Linked DNA regions of Homo sapiens. The protein of the gene in region 3 interacts with the protein of the main gene of each other region in a pairwise test. Each region holds a gene or a part of one and is shown on either strand. Other genes may lie near its edges.

Region 1 (7,031 bases), on a different chromosome or scaffold from region 3:
ATCTAGAAAAACATTGTTATTGCCATTCAGGGCCTCTGAGTTTTAATAATTTAATAATTTAATTTAGTAATGAAATTAAGATATGGTTTGGTTTGCTTTCTATTACAGCATACTTGAACTAACACCTTGTTTTTCCTGGTGTATTATCTGATGACTGAGTGTAGGAACAATGTCATTAATGTGTGTTTCCTCTACTGCATAATTTCCACCCATGGAAGAGTCTCCATTAAGAGGACCTGCTACAAATGTGGAAGCTCAGAGACCTCGAAATGAAGTCATCTGTATCTGTTGGCCTGCTGGGTTAATTCTGTATGTGCTGGTGAAACTGGAGAAGTCTGCGTGCTTCTGACAATTGATGGTGGAATTCTACGAATTAAAGCGTTTTAGCAGGAAATGATTATGAAGGACCTGATCACTGTCTGTGTTTCCATAATGTGATAAGATTAGAGTAATGGGTGAAATGAGGAGCAATCAGGAAACATCTTTGTTCTTTTTCAACAGCTCTGAACAGCAACATGGGGTGCAAAGTCCTGCTCAACATTGGGCAGCAGATGCTGCGGCGGAAGGTGGTGGACTGTAGCCGGGAGGAGACGCGGCTGTCTCGCTGCCTGAACACTTTTGATCTGGTGGCCCTCGGGGTGGGCAGCACACTGGGTGCTGGTGTCTACGTCCTGGCTGGAGCTGTGGCCCGTGAGAATGCAGGCCCTGCCATTGTCATCTCCTTCCTGATCGCTGCGCTGGCCTCAGTGCTGGCTGGCCTGTGCTATGGCGAGTTTGGTGCTCGGGTCCCCAAGACGGGCTCAGCTTACCTCTACAGCTATGTCACCGTTGGAGAGCTCTGGGCCTTCATCACCGGCTGGAACTTAATCCTCTCCTACATCATCGGTAGGTCCCAGGGGTCCGGAGCTCGTGCCCTCTACCACTTTTCTGTTTGTTCCCACCTCCAAAGTGTGGGTGGATGCCCCACAGGGAGGTCATTCTTGTTAACACGAGAGGCACAGAATTAATAGGATGTTTCTGATTCATTTAGAGGTATTTAGTTTCTTTTAGTAGGTTTTTAAATTACTAGAGTAAATGCATCACTGATAGAGAAAAATTGGGAAAATAAAGAAAAGCATGAAGAAGAAAGTAGAAATACCCTGCCTGACAACATGGAGAAACTAATTCTCTCATTCATTCATTCATTCTTTTAATAAATGTTCATTGAGTACCTGCTCTGGGCTGGGCATTGTGCTAGATACTAGGGATCCCATGAAGGCATAAGACACTCTGTGTTCAGAAGTTTACTGTCTACAGATACAACTATGGTTAACATTTTTGTGAATTTAAATGTGTATTTTTCTACAGTGTATCTCTTTATAAAACAATATATAGTAAACATTTCTCATATCATTAGCTATTTTTCCACAGTAACATTTCTAATGCTTGCCTACCATTGTATAGATTTATATACACAGCGTAATGTATTGGTGTCTTTATGGGATGTTCAGATTGTTTCCATTATGTTGTTGCTGTTGTTATTAACAGTTAATTACTTTATGTCTTTGGGCTTAGCCATGATTCTTTTCCTTAAAACTGTCTAAGGAGCAGAATGGCTGTCAGTGGGTCTGCGTGTTTTTAAGGCCTTTGTTGACTGTGATCCTCCACGTAGCCAGGGGCCCCTTTCCCTGCAGTGTGGGCACTGGGCATCGGCCTGTAACACATCCACCCAGCAAATAAGGAAGCAAATGTAGAAAATCTTTCCGGTTTGCCAGGTAAACACGCTTTGCTTCTCTTTATGCTTTTTTGTATTTTGATTACAACTGAAGTTGAACACATCAACTTAAAAGAAACAAAAACCTAAGTCTCAGAAGCAAAGGGTACAAACGGCCACTCAACATGCCATTTATTTTTTTTTTTCTCAAACTTTTTGGTAATAGCGAAAAAACAGTAAGACCTGTTAAGTTGAGCCATGTGGGTTCCGCCTTGCTTCTGTGTCAGCTCCCACTGGACCCCACCACACCCTCCCTGGCCACACATGCTGCCTGCTGGGATCCTCGCAGCCCTGGGCTCCCCACAGCCCTATCTCTGCATGGGGGGCATCACTCCCCCTTCACCAGGACAGCTGGGGGAGGGCACACACTCACATTCTCCGAGCAGCACCTTCTCTTTCTTTCCAGCAGCTGCAGTATCTGCTGAGAGCCAACATAGCTTAGTCTTCTGGGTTCTAAAATAAAATTCACAATGTTTTCTTTCAATGCCACATCAAAACTTAACAACCACACATGGTTCTCACAAGCTGAAGTCTCTCACTGGGAATGTAGCTATTGTAAATGGACCGTTATGTTTCCAGAGGATTTACCTGAGCATAAAATATACATTGAGCATGAAATGCTTGCAGCTTCTAGACCAACAAATGTAAGGCTCTGCGAGAGTGCCGTTTGCTTGTGTGAAACCATTTGCATGCATTATAAAAATGTGTTCTCAGCCTTAGCTGCTGGGAAGGGCAGTTTTTCCAGCAAACATTTTTTTAAAAGGCATAATTCAGAAATTGGGAGTGGATAGGCTGGGAAGAAAGGCTGGGGTAGCCCCTGTCACTGAGCAGGACAGGGTTTGGGAGCCACGTTTGCCATAAGCCAGCTGCTTTGGGGGTGACAGGGAGATGGTGAGACCATTTTTACAGAATTCATAATAGATTGGCTGCTTAGGAGGAAGAAATGTGGTTAAACTTCTGAGTTGTTGGAAAGATACTTACTTATCATAAGACCAAATAGTGAAATTGAATCTCTGCAGATCACTGTGGCAATATGCTGTGGATAATTAGGACCATGGTCACCGACAAGGCCCGCTTTGAAAATAAAGGAAAACGCTCTATGAAAATGCTGGAATTTTAGTGACATTTCCTGAGAAACACCAATGGAAACACATTCTGACACCCTTTAGAATTATGTGAGAGGAGAGAATGAGAGTGAAAGACAGCAGCCAACTATTGTTGGCATTTTGAGTGCTGCCCTGTTGGTGTTCTTCGGCACCGGAGGGTGCAGGCTGAGGGGAGAACGAGGAGGGCTGGGGTCTGTCTGCTGTCCTGCACTCTGGGGATGCTGTGGCCTCCGAATCAGGTTCAGGCAAAAAGTGGCAGAGGTGGCTGATGCCAACACTGAGATGAGCAAGTGGCTTTGTCCCTGAGATGGAGTTCAGCCCCTTCAAGGACTTCCTAGGGCCCCTCTTCTTGCTGAGAGAAGAATTATGGTGCAGGCACCATCATCTCTGCAGCCAAGGGGTTCCTAGAAAAGAGGCTTCCTAAGCAGCATTCCTCCAGACTGCCAGCTGCACCCCAGGAGTGCATTATGAAATCAATTTTTCATGAGTTGTCATCAATGTTTACTTTTTTTAATGAAACAAAGTAGGTAGCATTAAATATTATCAGAGTGCCTCTCAGGTGGTAAGGGTAACACTCGTTTTGCGAACTTTTTATTCGGATATATATATTTGATAGAATACACCTGTGTATATTGGGTAGGATGTGAAGTGCATTCCTCTGTAGGCCCTAGAAGCCTTCTCGCACTTAGCACTAGTCGACCGTCACTTCTGGCTCAGCATACACTGTGGTCTGGCTGCTGCTGCCAGATTCCAGTGCACCGTCGGTGACTCCTGCAATGATGTTATCAACATGGAGCTCCACTACAAATACCTGGCTAACAGTTGTCCTCACATCTCCTCTGTTGTGTGTGCTTTGTGGCAGGTACTTCAAGCGTAGCGAGGGCCTGGAGCGCCACCTTCGACGAGCTGATAGGCAGACCCATCGGGGAGTTCTCACGGACACACATGACTCTGAACGCCCCCGGCGTGCTGGCTGAAAACCCCGACATATTCGCAGTGATCATAATTCTCATCTTGACAGGTAAAGCCCACACTTAAAAAGAGATCGGGTCAGAGTGATGGGCAAAGGTTTGGTGAGAGGCTCCTGTTAAGTTCCTTTCTTTACTTATCTCTTTAACCATAACCCCCATTTCTTTTTGTTTTGTTTTTGTACTGCATGCAGGCATCTTTATTTGTTCCTGTCTTCATTGCTTCTTATAGATTCAGATAGGGCCGGCCTGCTTCATAGCTGTTGAATTGTGTGCCATTTCATTAAAAGAGAATCTTAGGTGTTTAGCCTAGCTGTTTGTGGAATAAGATTTTGTCTGCACTGCAGGCTTTTTGTGTGAGTGTCCTGGGAATAAAAGTTCTTTTGACTCAGTGGATGACCATTTGGAAAGCAAAACTGTCATTCATCAGCCAGGAAAATGTGGAGGAATGAGCTCCGTCTGGAACACTAATGTGTGCCTGGGGCGTCTGAAGATGACTTGGATGGTTTTTACACCTAACAACCATCAAAACACCCTTTCAGTAAATAAGTTTCATGACAGAGTTGTGGTTACAGAATTTGAAAAATCCCAGAGACTGCCTGAACACAGCTGATGGCAACTTCTTGCTAGTGACATTTGTGCGTGTCTTGGCCAGTGCAGCGCGAGTTTTGCTCTGTGGGGCTCCATAAACATGAAGCTGAAATGCAGATAAATTCTCATTTGGGGTTAGAAAATCTTGGATGAGTTTTAAAAATGACATGCCTTATTTTACACACCACATAATTGAAATAACTTCACTCAGGCTGGTCTCAGCAGTATTTCTGGTCCAGCTGGCAGAAACATGCATCAGAAAGTAAGTCTGCACTAGTGAGATTTCATTTTAATAAACCTGAGAGGGAGGGACACTAAAGAAACAATATATTGTTGTTTGTTGAGGTGTTCTCCCTGTGATTAATTACACAATTCTCTTCTAACATCTGTACTTTATAATTCAATCTCAAAAGTACAGCAGTTTTTATTTTATTTTATTTTATTTTATATTTGAGACAGAGTCTTGTTCTGTCACCCAGGCTGGAGTGCAGTTGCGCGATCTTGGCTCACTGCAACCTCTGCCTCCTGGGTTCAAGCGATTCTCACACCTCAGCCTCCCCAGTAGCTGCGATTACAGACACGCACCACCACACCCAGTTAATCTTTTATATTTTTAGTAGAGGTAAGGTTTTGCCATATTGGCCAGGCTGGTCTGGAACTCCTGACCTCAAAAGATCTGCCTGCTTCCCAAAGTATTGGGATTACAGGCGTGAGCGACCGCACCTAGCCAATTTTTATTTTAAAACGATGAGAGGCGTCCATGGCAGAGCAGTGGTCTCAAATCCTGGCTGTGTTCGAGTGGTACCAACCCCTTCTGTGCCACTTTTCTTGCCCAGCAGAGAGTTCAGCTATGGAAGTACCCGAATGACCTCTTCACCCTAAGGTGGTGCTGGGGCATGTGCCTCAAAGGCAGTGCTGTCAGAGGTTCCTGGGCATCTTTATTACTTATAGTTTTCTTTAAAAAAAAAACGTGAGTTTGCAAGCTAGAGCTAGCCTAGCTCAGATGTTATTTTATATGCACTGAGTCCAACGAAGAACCATGTGTGTTAGTGGTTCCAGAACCATAGCTAGTTGTTATTGTTAATATCACTAACATCCCAAAGTCAACCAGAATAATTTCCTCTTCTGAAAAATGTCCATTCTCCCAGGAAACTATGCAAAGTCTTTCTTCCTGGAATTGTTCCTAGAGGTTGTTTCCCAGCAACGCATCCTTTTAGTGAGAGGGAGCGGCTTGGTGTGCGGGTCCAGGCTTTCCCCTCCCTATGAGAGGGGCTCATGCTCCAGATCTCTGCAGTTCTCGGGTGCCCCTTGGGTGGGCTTCTCAGTTCCCAAGGGTATCTGGAGGTCACCTAGGAGGGCCTGGGAAGCACCCACAACCTTGGTGATTTAAACCCCTGATCCCCGCCCCCAGAAAGATAATTAATCCACCCCATTCCCAGAGGCTCACAGAGGTCTGCAGAGGCTCGATGCACTTGGATTCTTTTTCAGTCGCCTTCTTATCCCCATCCAGGAAGGACCTTCCCAGTTTGTGGTTAACACTCAGACAAAGTTTTGTGTCTATGCACTTTTTCAGGACTTTTAACTCTTGGTGTGAAAGAGTCGGCCATGGTCAACAAAATATTCACTTGTATTAACGTCCTGGTCCTGGGCTTCATAATGGTGTCAGGATTTGTGAAAGGATCGGTTAAAAACTGGCAGCTCACGGAGGAGGATTTTGGGAACACATCAGGCCGTCTCTGTTTGAACAAGTGAGTTGCTGCTTCTGACCATTTTTCTTAGTTGACATTTAATGACATAGATTGTATGGGGGATATAACTGGCTAGGATGGCATGTGCTTTTAAGAAAACATTATTTGAGGATATTTTGTTAATTGTTTTGTGTTTTTGCAGTGAAGTAGCTGAGGGTATTTTGTATGTATCAAGTTTGTGTGAAGGTTTATTCCCCTGAAATGGAAAGACTATTGTATGACAAGAAAGACTGAGGAAAAGAAAATCATCACCCTAATTCCAAATTGTGTATCATTCAGGATTCTTGTCAGACTCATTAAATGATCCCTCTTTCCCCAGATTCTGTTTGATGGCCAACTTTGGAATTTTGTGTTCAGAAAAGATTTTTCTCTGCAGTGCCGTGGTGACCTCACTTCACCTTTAAATACCTTCCTATTAGATTAATAATGTAGAGGGAAGAGAAATAGGTGAAACTATTTTTGAAGGTTTTCAGAATGACTGAAGTGTCAGAATGTGAGCACAATAGTCTTTCGCCGACATTTGACTTGTGCTGCTCAAGCCCTGGCGACAGTGGCCCCATCACCCTCATGTCTCTGACACAGACATCCGGAACTGGAGGTGACAGCTCCACCCTGTGCCATCTCAGGTCTCTCGCCCAGCCCTCATTGAAAGCTCAGATAACCTAGGAAAAAAAAGCCAAACAGTCATATCTTTTTTATCTTTGTTGTCAGATCTCCATGTAATTCTTTAGGTCTCAGGATGGACAATGGGGACTTGGATTTTGTGTGTGATTCTTCATTAAGACTGAAGGTTGAAACTGCTATGATAAAGAGACCCCCTCCAACTGCCACAATGGAGTGTGGCTTTAAAGAAGAGATGTTTCCA
Region 2 (7,031 bases), on a different chromosome or scaffold from region 3:
CTTTGAGTGGTAATGAGAGGAGATTGAGGAGCCCACAGGCCACTCCCAGTTTCTCAAGCACCAGCTTTTATGACTCGGGGACTTTGCAGCCAACAATTCTCTCCTGTGCTTCTCTACTTAAGAAATGTCTGCTCGGCCAGGCGTGGTGGCTCACACCTGTAATCCCAGCACTTTGGGATGCCAAGGCAGGCGGATCACTTGAGGCCAGGAGTTTGAGACCATCCTGGCCAATATGGTGAAACCCTGGTCTCTACTAAAAATACAAAAGTTAACCAGGCATGGTAGCAGGCGCCTGCAATCCCAGCTAATCGGGAGGCTGAGGCAAAAGAATTGCTTGAACCCAGGAGGCGAGGTTGCAGTGAGCGGAGATTGTGCCACTGAACTCCAGCCTGGGTGACAGAGTGAAATTCCATCTCAAAAAAAAAGAAAAAAAGAAAGAAATGTCTACTCATCCCTCAAGTCCCACTCCAAAGTCCCTTCCTCTAATTGAGCTCTCAGTCCCCCAAGGATTTTGCCAATCTCCTGACCCTTCCTCTCTCAACCCTGCTCACCAAGGCTGTGTCCAAACCCGCCTCTGCCATCAGACTGACAGGTCCTCCTGGGCAGGGTGTGTGTTGCACAGTGCCTGGCATGGGCTGGATACAGAGGAGACTGACTGTGTGTCTACAATGCCCAGCCAATGCCTCCTGGAAACCCTGTTCCCTGTATTCCCCCAGGTCACACTCCAAAAAGTCCTCTTACCTGGCTTGGGAGGAAGGTCCTTGTAGGGAGGTGTTGAGTTCTCATAGTCATCATCCTCCTCCTCCTCCTCCATGGTCCCTTCCAGGGGAAAGGCAAGTCAGAGCCCAGCCATTCCCTCCTCCCTCCATCCCTCAAGCCCTGGTCTCTGCCTCAGCTGCCCCATGATGGGGATTCTGTACCCTGGATCTTGACCACACCTGGGCCCCAGCCCCAGCCTGGCCAGGGCCTTACCTGGTGGGTCTGGACACCCAGCGATAGTATACATGTTGTGCATGGCTACAGCTAACACCAGGAACATGACAAGTGGTAGCCAGGTCTTGTCCCTCCTACTCAGATGTCTAAGGCATCTGTCTGTTTCCCTTTCCTTTCAAAGTCAAGTACAGGCAAATCCATCTTGGGGGGAAGCCCCTGGACCTCACACAAACACACACACACACACACACACACACACACACACACATTTTTCTCCGGAGTTTGGATTCACACACGGAAGAAACAATGGGCCGGGAGTGGTGGCTCACATCTGTAATCCCAGCACTTTGGGAGGCTGAGGCTGGCAGGTTGCCTGAGTTTGGGAGTTCGAGATCAGCCTGGGCAACCAACATGGCGAAACCCCGTCTCTAACAAAAATACAAAAACTAGCCAGGCATGATGGTGCAAGCCTGTAATCCCAGCTACTTGTGAGGCTGAGGCAGGTGAATCACTTGAACTCAGGAGGTGGAGGTTGCAGTGAGCTGAGATCGCACCACTGCACTCCAACCTGAGTGACAGAGTGAGATTCTGTCTCAAAAAAAAAAAAAAAGAGGAAGGAGAAACAATGACAATAGCCCCCATTGCAGTGAGCCGAGATAGCGCCACTGCACTCCAGCCTGGGCAACACAGTGAGATTCTGTCTCAAAAAAAAGGGCCAGGCGCGGTGGCTCACGCCTGTAATCCCAGCACTTTGGGAGACTGAGGCAGTCAGATCACAAGGTCAGGAGATCGAGACTATCCTGGCTAACATGGTGAAACCCTGTCTCTACTAAAAATACAAAAAATTAGCCAGGCGTGGTGGCGGGCGCCTGTGGTCCCAGCTACTCAGGAGGCTGAGGCAGGAGAATGGCGTGAACCTGGGAGGCGGAGCTTGCAGTGAGCCGAGATCGCGCCACTGCACTCCAGCCTGGGCGACAGAGCAAAACTCTGTCTCAAAAAAAAAAAAAGAAGAAAAGGAAAAAGAAGAAACTATGACAACAGCCACACCCCTCCCCTCTCCCAGTTGAGCTCCCCTACAGAGCACCAAGTCCTGGGTGGAAGAGATGGATAAACTTCTTCCTGCAATCTAGACCAGAGAGACAATAAACCAGTAAAGAGACGCAGAAATAGGCTGGGCGCAGTGGCTCATGCCTATAATCCCAGCACTTTGGGAGGCCAAGGCAGGAGGATCGCTTGAGGCCAGGAGTTCAAGACCAGCCTGGGCAACATAGCAAGACCCTATCTCTGTAAAAAAAAAAAAAAAATTAGAAAAAACCATCCAGGCATGGTGGTGCACACCTGTAGTCCCAGCTATCGGGAGACTGAGGTGGGAGGATTGCTTGAGCTCAGGAGGTTGACACAGCAGTGAGCCATGATTGCACTACCACACTCCAGCCTGGGCAACAGAAGGAGACCCCACTCTTAAAGAAAAAAGAAAAGAGGCTGGGCATGGTGGCTCACGCCTGTAATCTCAGCACTTTGGGAGGCTGAGGCAGGCAGATCACCTGAGGTCGGGAGTTCGAGACCAGCCTGAGCAACATGGAGGAACCCCATCTTTTCTAAAAATACAAAATTAGCCGGGCACGGTGGCACATGCCTGTAATCCCGCTGCCAGGGAGACTGAGTCAGGAGAATCACTTGAACCCGGGAGGCAGAGGTTGCTGTCAGCCAAGATTGCACCATTGCACTCCGGCCTGGGCAGCAAGAGTGAAACTCCGTCTCAAGAAAAAAAAAAAAAAAAGTAAAGAAATTAAGAAACATTAAAATATGTTTTTATATAGACTAAGTATTACTGCTCTAAACCTAATAAAACAGAGCAATAGGGATAGGATAAAAGCTAATGTAGCGAGGTCATCAGGAAGTGCCTCCTGGAAGTGGTAACATTTGTAACAAGATGTTAAGGGGATAGGTGTTAAGTATTCCCCCACATTCCATGGTGAAGTACCAGGGCACTGGGTCAGTTATCTATGGCTGCACAACCAATTACCCCAAAACGCAGTGACTTAAAACAACCATAAGCATTTATTATCTCACAGTTTCTGTGGTTCAGGAATCTGAGAGCAGCTTAGCTGGGTAGTTCTAGCTTGAGATCTCTTGCGTGATTGTAGTCAAGATGTTGCCTGGGACTGCAAGTCATCTGCAGGCTTGACTGGGGCTAGAGGATCTGCTTCCAAGATGATGCACTCACATGGCTGTTGGTGGGAGGCCTCAGTTCCTTGCCATGTGAGCCTCTCCAAAGGGATGACTGGGCATCTTCACAACATGGCAGAGGCAAAGATAGAAGCCACCATGCTCCTATGATCTAGCCTCACAAGTCACAAAGGATGGTCTCCACTATACAGTATTCTATTTATCACATGGACCAGCTCTGAGTCGTTGTGGGAAGAGACTACACAAGGGCACGAATATGAGAACGTAAAGGTCACAGGGAACCCATCTTGAAGGCTGACTACCACAGTCATCTCTGCAGAACTTACAGGCCCTGAGAGTCATATGAGTCATATATGTAGACCCTGAGCTTCACATGTGAGGCTTTACAGACAGTGACTCATGCCTGTAACCCCAGCTACTCGGGAGGGTGTAGTAGGAGGATTGCTTGGACCCAAGAGCTCAAGGCTGCAGTGAGCTATGATTGCACCACTTCAGGGCAGCCTGGGTGACAAGCAAGACCCTGTCTCAAAAATATTTTTTTTAAATTCTCTGGTTTCCTCTCATAAAAACTAATGAGCAGACAATTCACAGTTCTCTTCTCTGTGTGTCTCTTTGAGGGTTTGATTGAAAGGGGAAGGGATGGAAGGGGATGGAGGGGATTTTAAAAAACAAAAACAGTTGCGTTTCAGGATGGGGATGAAGATGAGGTGAGGTTTGGATTAGAATTGGTGTTGGGATGGGGTGGGATGGGATGGAAAATGGGTTGGGGACAGGGATGGATGTGGGTAAGGTCATGATGTGGTTAGGATGAAGAACAGAGTCCTTGCCAGGTTTGGGAAGGGGGAAGGAGTCGAGGCTGGGCTATAGTAGAGAGGGTGATGAAGTTGGATTGGAGAGTGGATGCTGGGCTGCATGTGGATGTGGGGACAGGACTGTGCTTTTGGAGCAGACGTGGCCCTGAAGAAGGGAATGGGATTGGTTGGTCATATATGTAGACCCAGGGCTTGAGGGTCACATTAGGACCATAAATTGGAAATGGGGCAGTGAAACAACACAGCACAGGTCACCTCCTACCTCAGGCAAGTCCCACCATATTTCTGGACCTCCCAGGTGGCCCCACTCTGGACTCAGAGATGGGGGATATACAGCCTCAGCCCTCATAGAATGGCCCCTGTCTAAGGTCACCAGGACCAGGCCATCAGCATATCTCAGGGATTTTCTGTTTTGGGCCCCCAGGATCTCTCATGGCCTCAGGGTCCCTGGTGGCAGTAAACTCAGGAATACCTCAAAAACCTCCGGTTTCATTTTCTCTATTTTTTTAGAAGTGGGGTCGCGCTATGCTGCCCAAGCTGGAGTGCAGCGGCTACTCACAGGAGCAGTCGCACTACTGATCAGCTCGGGGGTGTCGAGTGGCTCTGTTTCCAACCTGGAAACCCCTCCTCAGACACCTTAGGCAACCTGGTGGTCCCTGCTCCCAAAACATCACCATATTGATGCCAAACTTAGTGCAGATGCCCAATCACATACTTCACAATAGCCCAGAACTCCTGGGCTCAAGCGATCCTCCTGACTCAGCCTCCCAAGTAGCTGGGACTACAGACATGTGCCACCACAAACGGTCCAAACCTCTACTTGTTTTTTTTTTTTTTTTGGCAGAGATGGGGTCTTGCTATGTTGCCCCGGCTGGTCTCAAACTCCTGTCCTCAAGCGATCCTCCCACCTCGGCCTCCCAAAGTATCAAGACTACAGATGCACACCACTGCAGCTGGCCCAAACCTCCACTTTAACAACCACTTATCAGTCTCCTGTTGGACCCTGTACCATGCCTTGGGTTTGTGATCCAAGTCTAAATAAAACCTGGGCTTTGGGTAGAAAGGTGAGGAGATTGGGAGCCCACAGTCCACTCCCAGTTTCTCAAGCACCAGCTTTTGTAACTCAGGGACTTTGCACCTAACAGTTCTCTCCTGGACTTCTCTTCTTAAGAAATGTCTACTCATCCCTCAAGTCTCACCCCAAAGTCCCTTCCTCTATTTGAGCCCTCAGTCCCCCAAGGATTTTGCCAATCTCCTGACCCCTCCTCTCTCACCCTGCTCACCAAGACTGTGCCCAATCCTGCCTCTGCCATCAGACTGACAGGTCCTCCTGGGCAGGGTGTGGGTTCCACAGTGCCCGGCATGGGCTGTGTAGAGAGGAGACTGACTGTGTGTCTACAATGCCCAACCAATGCCCACTGGAGACCCCGTTCCCTGTATTCCCCCAGGTCACACTCCAAAAAGTCCTCTTACCTGGCTTGGGAGGAAGGTCCTTGTAGGGAGGTGTTGAGTTCTCATAGTCATCATCCTCCTCCTCCTCCTCCATGGTCCCTTCCAGGGGAAAGGCAAGTCAGAGCCCAGCCATTCCCTCCTCCCTCCATCCCTCAAGCCCTGGTCTCTGCCTCAGCTGCCCCATGATGGGGATTCTGTACCCTGGATCTTGACCACACCTGGGCCCCAGCCCCAGCCTGGCCAGGGCCTTACCTGGTGGGTCTGGACACCCAGAGATAGAATACAGGTTGTGCATGGCTACCGCTAACACCAGGAACATGACAAGGGGTAGCCAGGTCTTGTCTCTCCTACTCAGATGTCTAAGGCATCTGTCTGTTTCCCTTTCCTTTCAAAGTCAAGTACAGGCAAATCCATCTTGGGGGGAAGCCCCCAGACCTCACACAAACACAAACACACACACACACACACACACACACACATCTTTCTCTGGAGTTTGGACTCACACATAGAAGAAACAATGGGCCGGGGGTGGTGGCTCACGTCTGTAATCCCAGCACTTTGGGAGGCTGAGGCTGGCAGGTCGCCTGAGTTTGGGAGTTCGAGATCAGCCTGGGCAACCAACGTGGTGAAACCCCGTCTCTACCAAAAATACAAAAACTAGCCGGGCGTGGTGGTGCCTGCCTGTAATCCCAGCTACTTGTGAGGCTGAGGCAGGTGAATCACTTGAACTCAGGAGGTGGAGGTTGCAGTGAGCTGAGATCATGCCACTGCACTCCAGCCTGAGTGACAGAGTGAGATTCTGTCTCAAAAAAAAAAAAAAAGAAAGAAAGAAAGAAAAAGAAGAAACAATGACAACAGCCACCCACCTCCCCGCTCCCAGTTGAGCTCCCCTACAGAGCACCAAGTTCTGGGTGGAAGAGATGGATAAACTTCTTCCTTCAATCTAGACCAGAGACACAATAAACCAGTAAAGAGACATAGAAATAGGCTGGGCGCAATGGCTCATGCCTATAATCCCAGCACTTTGGGAGGCCAAGGCAGGAGGATCGCTTGAGGCCAGGAGTTCAAGACCAGCCTGGGCAACATAGCAAGACCCTATCTCTGTAAAAAAAATTTAGAAAAAACCATCCAGGCATGGTGGTGCACACCAGTAGTCCCAGCTATCAGGAGGCTGAGGTGGGAGGATTGCTTGAGCTCAGGAGGTTGACACAGCAGTGAGCCATGATTGCACTACTACACTCCAGCCTGGGCAACAGAGGGAGACCCCACTCTTAAAAAAGTAGAAAAGAGGCTGGGCGTGGTGGCTCGTGCCTGTAATCTCAGCACTTTGGGAGGCCAAGGCAGGCAGATCACCTGAGGTCGGGAGTTCGAGACCAGCCTGACCAACATGGAGAAACCCCATCTTTTCTAAAAATACAAAATTAGCCGGGCACAGTGGCACATGCCTGTAATCCCGCTGCCAGGGAGGCTGAGTCAGGAGAATCACTTGAACCCGGGAGGCAGAGGTTGCTGTCAGCCAAGATTGCACCATTGCACTCCGGCCTGGGCAGCAAGAGTGAAACTCCGTCTCAAGAAAAAAAAAAAAAAAAAGTAAAGAAATTAAGAAACATTAAAATATGTTTTTATATAGACTAAGTATTACTG
Region 3 (5,848 bases):
CAATAAGATGACCATATTGATTATGGCCATGTTGAGTGGGCTGTTGGCAATTTGGGTTTGATGGTCAGGGCAAGAATGAGAAAGGTGATAAAGTCATCACAGTAAATGCTTGTCTGAAGAGAGAGTAAAGAGGTAAAGGAGAGATGAGACAAAAACTTCAGGGGAGTACAAGTGGTAGGAGTGTTTAGTGAATTATCAGAGAGGCAGAATGAAAAGAATAGTATGTCATAAAAGGTGACTTTATAGAAGGAAGAAGAAGGAGGTAACAAACTGACATGCCGCAGACAGTTGAAGAGGGATACAGAGTGAGAAAAGGTGCTTGGATTTGATGGCTAGGAGGTTATTCGTGGCATTGTGTAAGCGGCTTTAGTATGGTGGTTGAGTAAGAAGATAAATTTATAAGGAATTAGTGGGTGAGAAAGAAGCGGAGGTCGAAAGTATAAATGATTCTTTTGCAAATTTAACCTGAGGATAAGCAGTAGGATAGGCAGATGATTGTTATTACGGTAAGGGCACAGAACTTATTTGGAGACCAAGCATAGGAAAGACACAAAAGAACAGATATTTAAGATCCTCAGGAGACAATATGATCATAAGCAGTATATGGACGTTAAGCATTGGTAAGGAGGCAGGGCACTTATTTCTGCAAAAGCAAAAGGTAAGAAGGGTGAAGACAGAAAGGTTTTTAGGTGGAGTGAAAACTCACATTGGATAATTGCCTGTTTCTTTTCAATAATATGAGATTATTTAGGAGTGAAAAAGGCTGGAGTTAGGGGCCAAAAAAACTAGAAAAGATTAAAAACAGTTCTAAAGAATACAAAAATCAACTGAAGATTAATAAAACGCTTTTGCAGCAGTGGTGAGGGCCTATTTTATTTACTAAAAATATCTAGAGCATGCTTCCATAATGTTCTTTTTTTTTTTTTTTTTTTTTTTTTGAGACGGAGTCTTGCTCTGTTGCCAGGCTGGAGTGTAGTGACGCGATCTCGACTCGCTGCAACCTCTGCCTCCTGGGTTCAAGCGATTCTCCTGCCTCAGCCTCCTGAGTAGCTGGGACTACAGGCACACACCACCATACTCAGCTAATTTTTTTGGTATTTTTAGTAGAGATGGAGTTTCACCATGTTGGCCAGGATGGTCTCGATCTTCTGATCTCGTGATCTGCCCACCTCTGCCTCCCAAAGTGCTGGGATTACAGGTGTGAGCCACTGTGCCTGGGAGTATCCATGAATAGATTTTAATTGTTTCATGAGGGCGGAACCCTTATGACCCAGTCACCTCTTAAAGGCCCCACCTTTATACTGCCACATTGGGGATTTTCAAAATGAGTTTTGGAAGGGACAGATATTCAAACCATAGCACCGTCCTACAATTGCATGATTGAATTTGTGTAATATCCCTGTCCTGTCATCCCTTTTCCCGCCTCCATTTTTTATGGCATTGCTCCTGTTAGATTATTAATTACTTGAGGCAATAACTGTCATTTTCATTTTTGATTTTCCATAGGACCTTAAACATAGCATATATTGAATACAATAGATCTGGACAGGAGAGAGCAGAGATTAGAATATTGGAAATCTGTGGAGGTGGCTAGGAGTTAAGAGTTTTTGTAATATAGGTAAATAAATTGAATCCCAGGTCCAAAAGTTCTAAAAGTTGGGGAGGTTATAAAAAGTAATCTTGGAAGGGTGGAAGGCTGGTAATGGAAAATGCAGACTCTGCAAGTTACTTGACTTCTCTTTGTTTTCACTTCCTTGTCTATAGAGTTTAATAAAACATGCTTGAAATGGACAGTAATACTCAGTAAATGTTAGCTATTAGTTTTCACTATTATCAATGGAAAAAAAAGTCACTTCTTATATTTAACATGGGAAAGGAAACCTATTTTAAACTCTGAAGTGTAATTGTTACTGCCTGGAAGTAGGGGCATTACAGGCATAAATAAGAGTGCTCAGGTCTTTCTTAAGATTTTTATGAGTAATGATGTCAATATTTTAATAATCATAATATCTAATACACTGAATCTACTGTTTTAGTCACTATGCTTTTAGTGTACTCTCATTTAATTAACTTTTATAAGGTGGATACTAGTAATCCTATATTTCATGAGAGGAAATTGAGGCTCATATAGATTAAGTATTTTATGCAAGATCATGTAGCTAAACTGTGGCAGGGTCTAGATTTTAACCAAGGTCTAACTCCAGACTCTGAATTTTTAATCAAGTTAATTTGATGATTGCATTTAAAGGAAATAACAGTAACCAAGAATTTTACTAAAAATTAATGGACTCTAATAGCTTACAGGATTTTTTGGGGGTCAGAAATCAAGGACCCTATGATAAGTATTATCCATGAACGGCCGTAAGAGGGCACCACTGCAACACTTCTGTGACAGTGCTGGAGGCCTCTGTTGCTGTAGTGCCTCATATACTAAATAATGTAAAGCTTGTACCTTTCTGCCTAATCCTGGATATATTTTAAATAGAAAAAGGGTCCATTTGAAAAGTTGAGATCAGCTAACTGCTAATTTTTTATAAAATCGAATGAGCATTGGTATTTATCATTTCAAGCAGGAGCTCTGTGGTATATAAATTAGGAAATCCTTATATTTTGTCTTGACTAGGAGAAATGGCTCTGAGATTGGGTGACTTGAGATGGAAAACATTGTAAAATGAAAATAAAATCAGGCATAGTTACAGGAAGAAAAAAGTAAGAGCCATGAGGTTGTTACTGGTTTAGGTTACAGTTTTGAGACTTGTGCTTTTCTGTGTTAGCTATGCATATAGAATAAAGAAAAGTATTTCATTGTTATAGATTTTTGAACAGGAGGAACAATAGAAATAGCTAAAACATGTATGTCTACTGTGTGTACTAGGTACTGTTCTGTTTGCTTTATAGAATTTAACTCATTTAATCATTACAACAACTTGTGTAAGATAGGTCCTGTTATTATCCTTGTTTTACACATGGGGAAACTAAGACATAGTTTAAATAACTTATTCAGTCATATGGGTAGGAAGTGGCAGAGCCAGAATTTGAGCCTAGGCATTCTGGATCCAGACTCTATGCCCTTAATCCCAGTAAGGGATTGCCTCCCTTCATTATCAAATCTTTCAAGTTCTTTTGAATAAACATATGATAAAATTGATTTCCCTTTATTCAGGAGAGGTTATGGCATGTTTGTGGCTATGCCAGACTAGAATCACAGGAGCTATAAGTTCTCATCTCACATTTGCCAATAATTTGCTGAAATTACTTAATTTCCCTGTTTTAGACTTTGAATATTTATAATTAATAAGAACTTGAGTATAAGAAGAAAAATGTAAAATTCAGATTAAAAATCTTCTAGAAATACCTTCTCTTGCTGAAGTAAAATTTCATTGTTAATGGATTGGGTTACCAAGATCATTCTGTCAATACAGTTTTTATTAAAATGGATAATAGGAATTTTCCCTAACTCTTGTTAATTACTTGGAACCTACAGAAATCAATTAAAACGACCTGAAAACTTGAGAAGCATAGTTTATTTAAAAAATGATATTATGAGTTTGCTTCCTTCCAGCTGGGATTTCTCTTAAAATGCCAGGGAGAAAGGGTCTGGAGGTCAGGCTTTCTTTTAAAAGCACCAAGCCTCTAATTCCATTGTTAGTCTTCGTGGTGACTAGCCGCCATCCTGATTCATCTCATCTCATAGCATAAACTCCTATGTGATCCCATCAGCCTATGAATAAAGACACTCCTATTATCAGGGAATTCTAAGGATGTAGAGTCTCCCTCCCAGCAACCAGGGACGGAGGCCAGTTAGATTCTTTTTATTTAATAGGACCATAGGCATTTCAAATGATTTCCTTGTCTATTTTAAACATTTGTGTATAAATTCCATGATATCACCCTATGCTTTAATCATAACAAATATCTTTTTTCCTCTAGGAGTCTGGAGCACCTATTCTTACAGATGATGTTAGTTTACAAGTGTTTATGGATCACTTGAAGAAACTTGCTGTGTCCAGTGCTGCTTGAAGTGCTAATAATGTTAAAGACACTTAAGAAGATGAAATAATATTCAAATTTCATTTTTTCCTTTTTCCATTTATCTGTGGAAACCAACAGATATTGCTCTATATTTTTTGTATTAGTATGGTTTGAGACAACATATGGAAAATGTTCACATTTGTAGATTAAGCTGGAATTATAATGAGAGCAATAAGAACAAATTTATTTTGCTTACCACAGTGTTATAGCTGGTTCTAGAAATTTGAAGTCTTTATAACTTAATTATGTTTAATAAAAAATAGAGTCTGCCTCGTACTACAGATGTAACTCATTTGTATATTGCAGACAGACCCAAAGTGGCACTGAATTTTCTTGCTCACCTTTTAAAAACTTGTTCCTTAATTTTAGCCAGAAAGCAAAAAAACAATAGTAATGATAAATGTGAACATTTTTGCTTATTCATTGAATATTTTTCTGTAATTTTCAGCACTTATGTATACACTTTTTCTGTACTTACTAGGTTAAGGCAGATTTATTTTTATGATTTGTTTAGGAATTATTTGATTTTATAATGGTAATTTTCATGATGATAATGTTTTTGGTTATTTGGAAAGATAGTTTAGAGATGAAAGGTTTTTTTGGGTAACAATCCCGCAGCTGACAAAAAATGTGAAATTTCCACAAAATATCCAACTTATGTGACTAAACGCAGTAGTTTTTTTAAAAGGGGAGATAGAAAATAAATGGTTTTGTTGGAGTGCATTTTAGTAAGCCTTTGCAGTAAAATGACGGTTGTAACTACTAAACCAAATTTAGTTTTCACAGCATGGTTTTGTTGTTTTCCCCTTGTTTTTCAGAGGTAAATTTTGCATTATATCCTTCAGTATTTTAACACTATTTTGGCAGTTTACACATTACTTTTTGTTTTTCCTTCCTTTTTGTGAAATGTATTAAGTTGTGGTTCTTATTGAAACAGTATTATATAATGTTTGCTTAATTATATCATGTGATGCTCAGTTCTATTTTGATTTATTCATTAGTATTCACTTTTACCTTTAAAGTTTACTTGTAGCAAATATGTTTACATTGATAAAGCCAGATATGTTTTGACAATGAAATTTACATATCAAGTACTGCAAATAAAAGGTGGTGCTATGATATATGCTTAGGAGGACAGTTTTAATGATTGTACTTGCATGAACACAATCATATGATGGTAAAGCAGAAACTTAAGAAAAAATTGTTTATGTGTTATATTCAATTAGCTTAAATAAGTTGCTTTGTTATATTTTATTTGAATTGAACTACGCTAGGCCTAAATGCCAATAAAATATACTTTTCACTGTTTTTCTGGCTATTTTGAAATCTAGTAAAACCTGAGAAGCCTAATGTAAAATTAGAGTATTTAAAATCATTAGATTTAAAAGCTACTCATTTAAAAAATAACAACTTTAAGATATAATTCACACATCATACACTTCACCCACTTAAAGTGCACAATTTAATAGTTTTGAGTATTTTCGTGAAGTTATGTATGTAACCACATCACCACAATCAATTTTAGAGTATTTTTTATCACTCCCAATAGTTACTCATTTTTGTTGTAAGGCTAGTGTGTTTTTAAAAAGGGAGATAGAAGTTCATGTAGTTTTTTGTTGTTGTTGTTGTTTGAGACAGAGTCTTGTTCTGTTGCCCAGGCTGGAGTGCAGTGGCACAGTCTCAGCTCACTGCAACCTCCACCTTCTGGGTTCAAGCGATTCTCCTACCTCAGCCTCCCAAGTAGCTGGGATTATAGGCGCCTGCCACCACACCTGGCTAAGTTTTGTATTTTTAGTAGAGATAGGGTTTCACCGTA

What was found. Proteins that work in one complex are often made in the same cells at the same time.
Region 1: the proteins of SEC23A (region 3) and SLC7A1 interact in binary tests that used the Homo sapiens proteins (3 or more experiments, as listed by UniProt).
Region 2: the proteins of SEC23A (region 3) and CLEC17A interact in binary tests that used the Homo sapiens proteins (3 or more experiments, as listed by UniProt).

Annotation. Positions count from the first base shown.
Region 1 is NC_000013.11:29,529,673-29,536,703, reverse strand, and holds part of SLC7A1 (high affinity cationic amino acid transporter 1), read left to right. Parts: intron 1-501; 5' UTR 502-515; coding exon 516-885; intron 886-3,721; coding exon 3,722-3,880; intron 3,881-5,991; coding exon 5,992-6,166; intron 6,167-7,031. UniProt on the Homo sapiens protein: High-affinity, low capacity permease involved in the transport of the cationic amino acids (arginine, lysine and ornithine) in non-hepatic tissues.
Region 2 is NC_000019.10:14,586,069-14,593,099, reverse strand, and holds part of CLEC17A (C-type lectin domain family 17, member A), read right to left. Parts: intron 5,487-7,031; coding exon 5,409-5,486; intron 3,362-5,408; exon of another isoform or gene 3,007-3,361; intron 820-3,006; coding exon 742-819; intron 1-741. UniProt on the Homo sapiens protein: Cell surface receptor which may be involved in carbohydrate-mediated communication between cells in the germinal center. Binds glycans with terminal alpha-linked mannose or fucose residues.
Region 3 is NC_000014.9:39,031,411-39,037,258, reverse strand, and holds the end of SEC23A (protein transport protein Sec23A), read left to right. Parts: intron 1-3,930; coding exon 3,931-4,020; 3' UTR 4,021-5,340; downstream 5,341-5,848.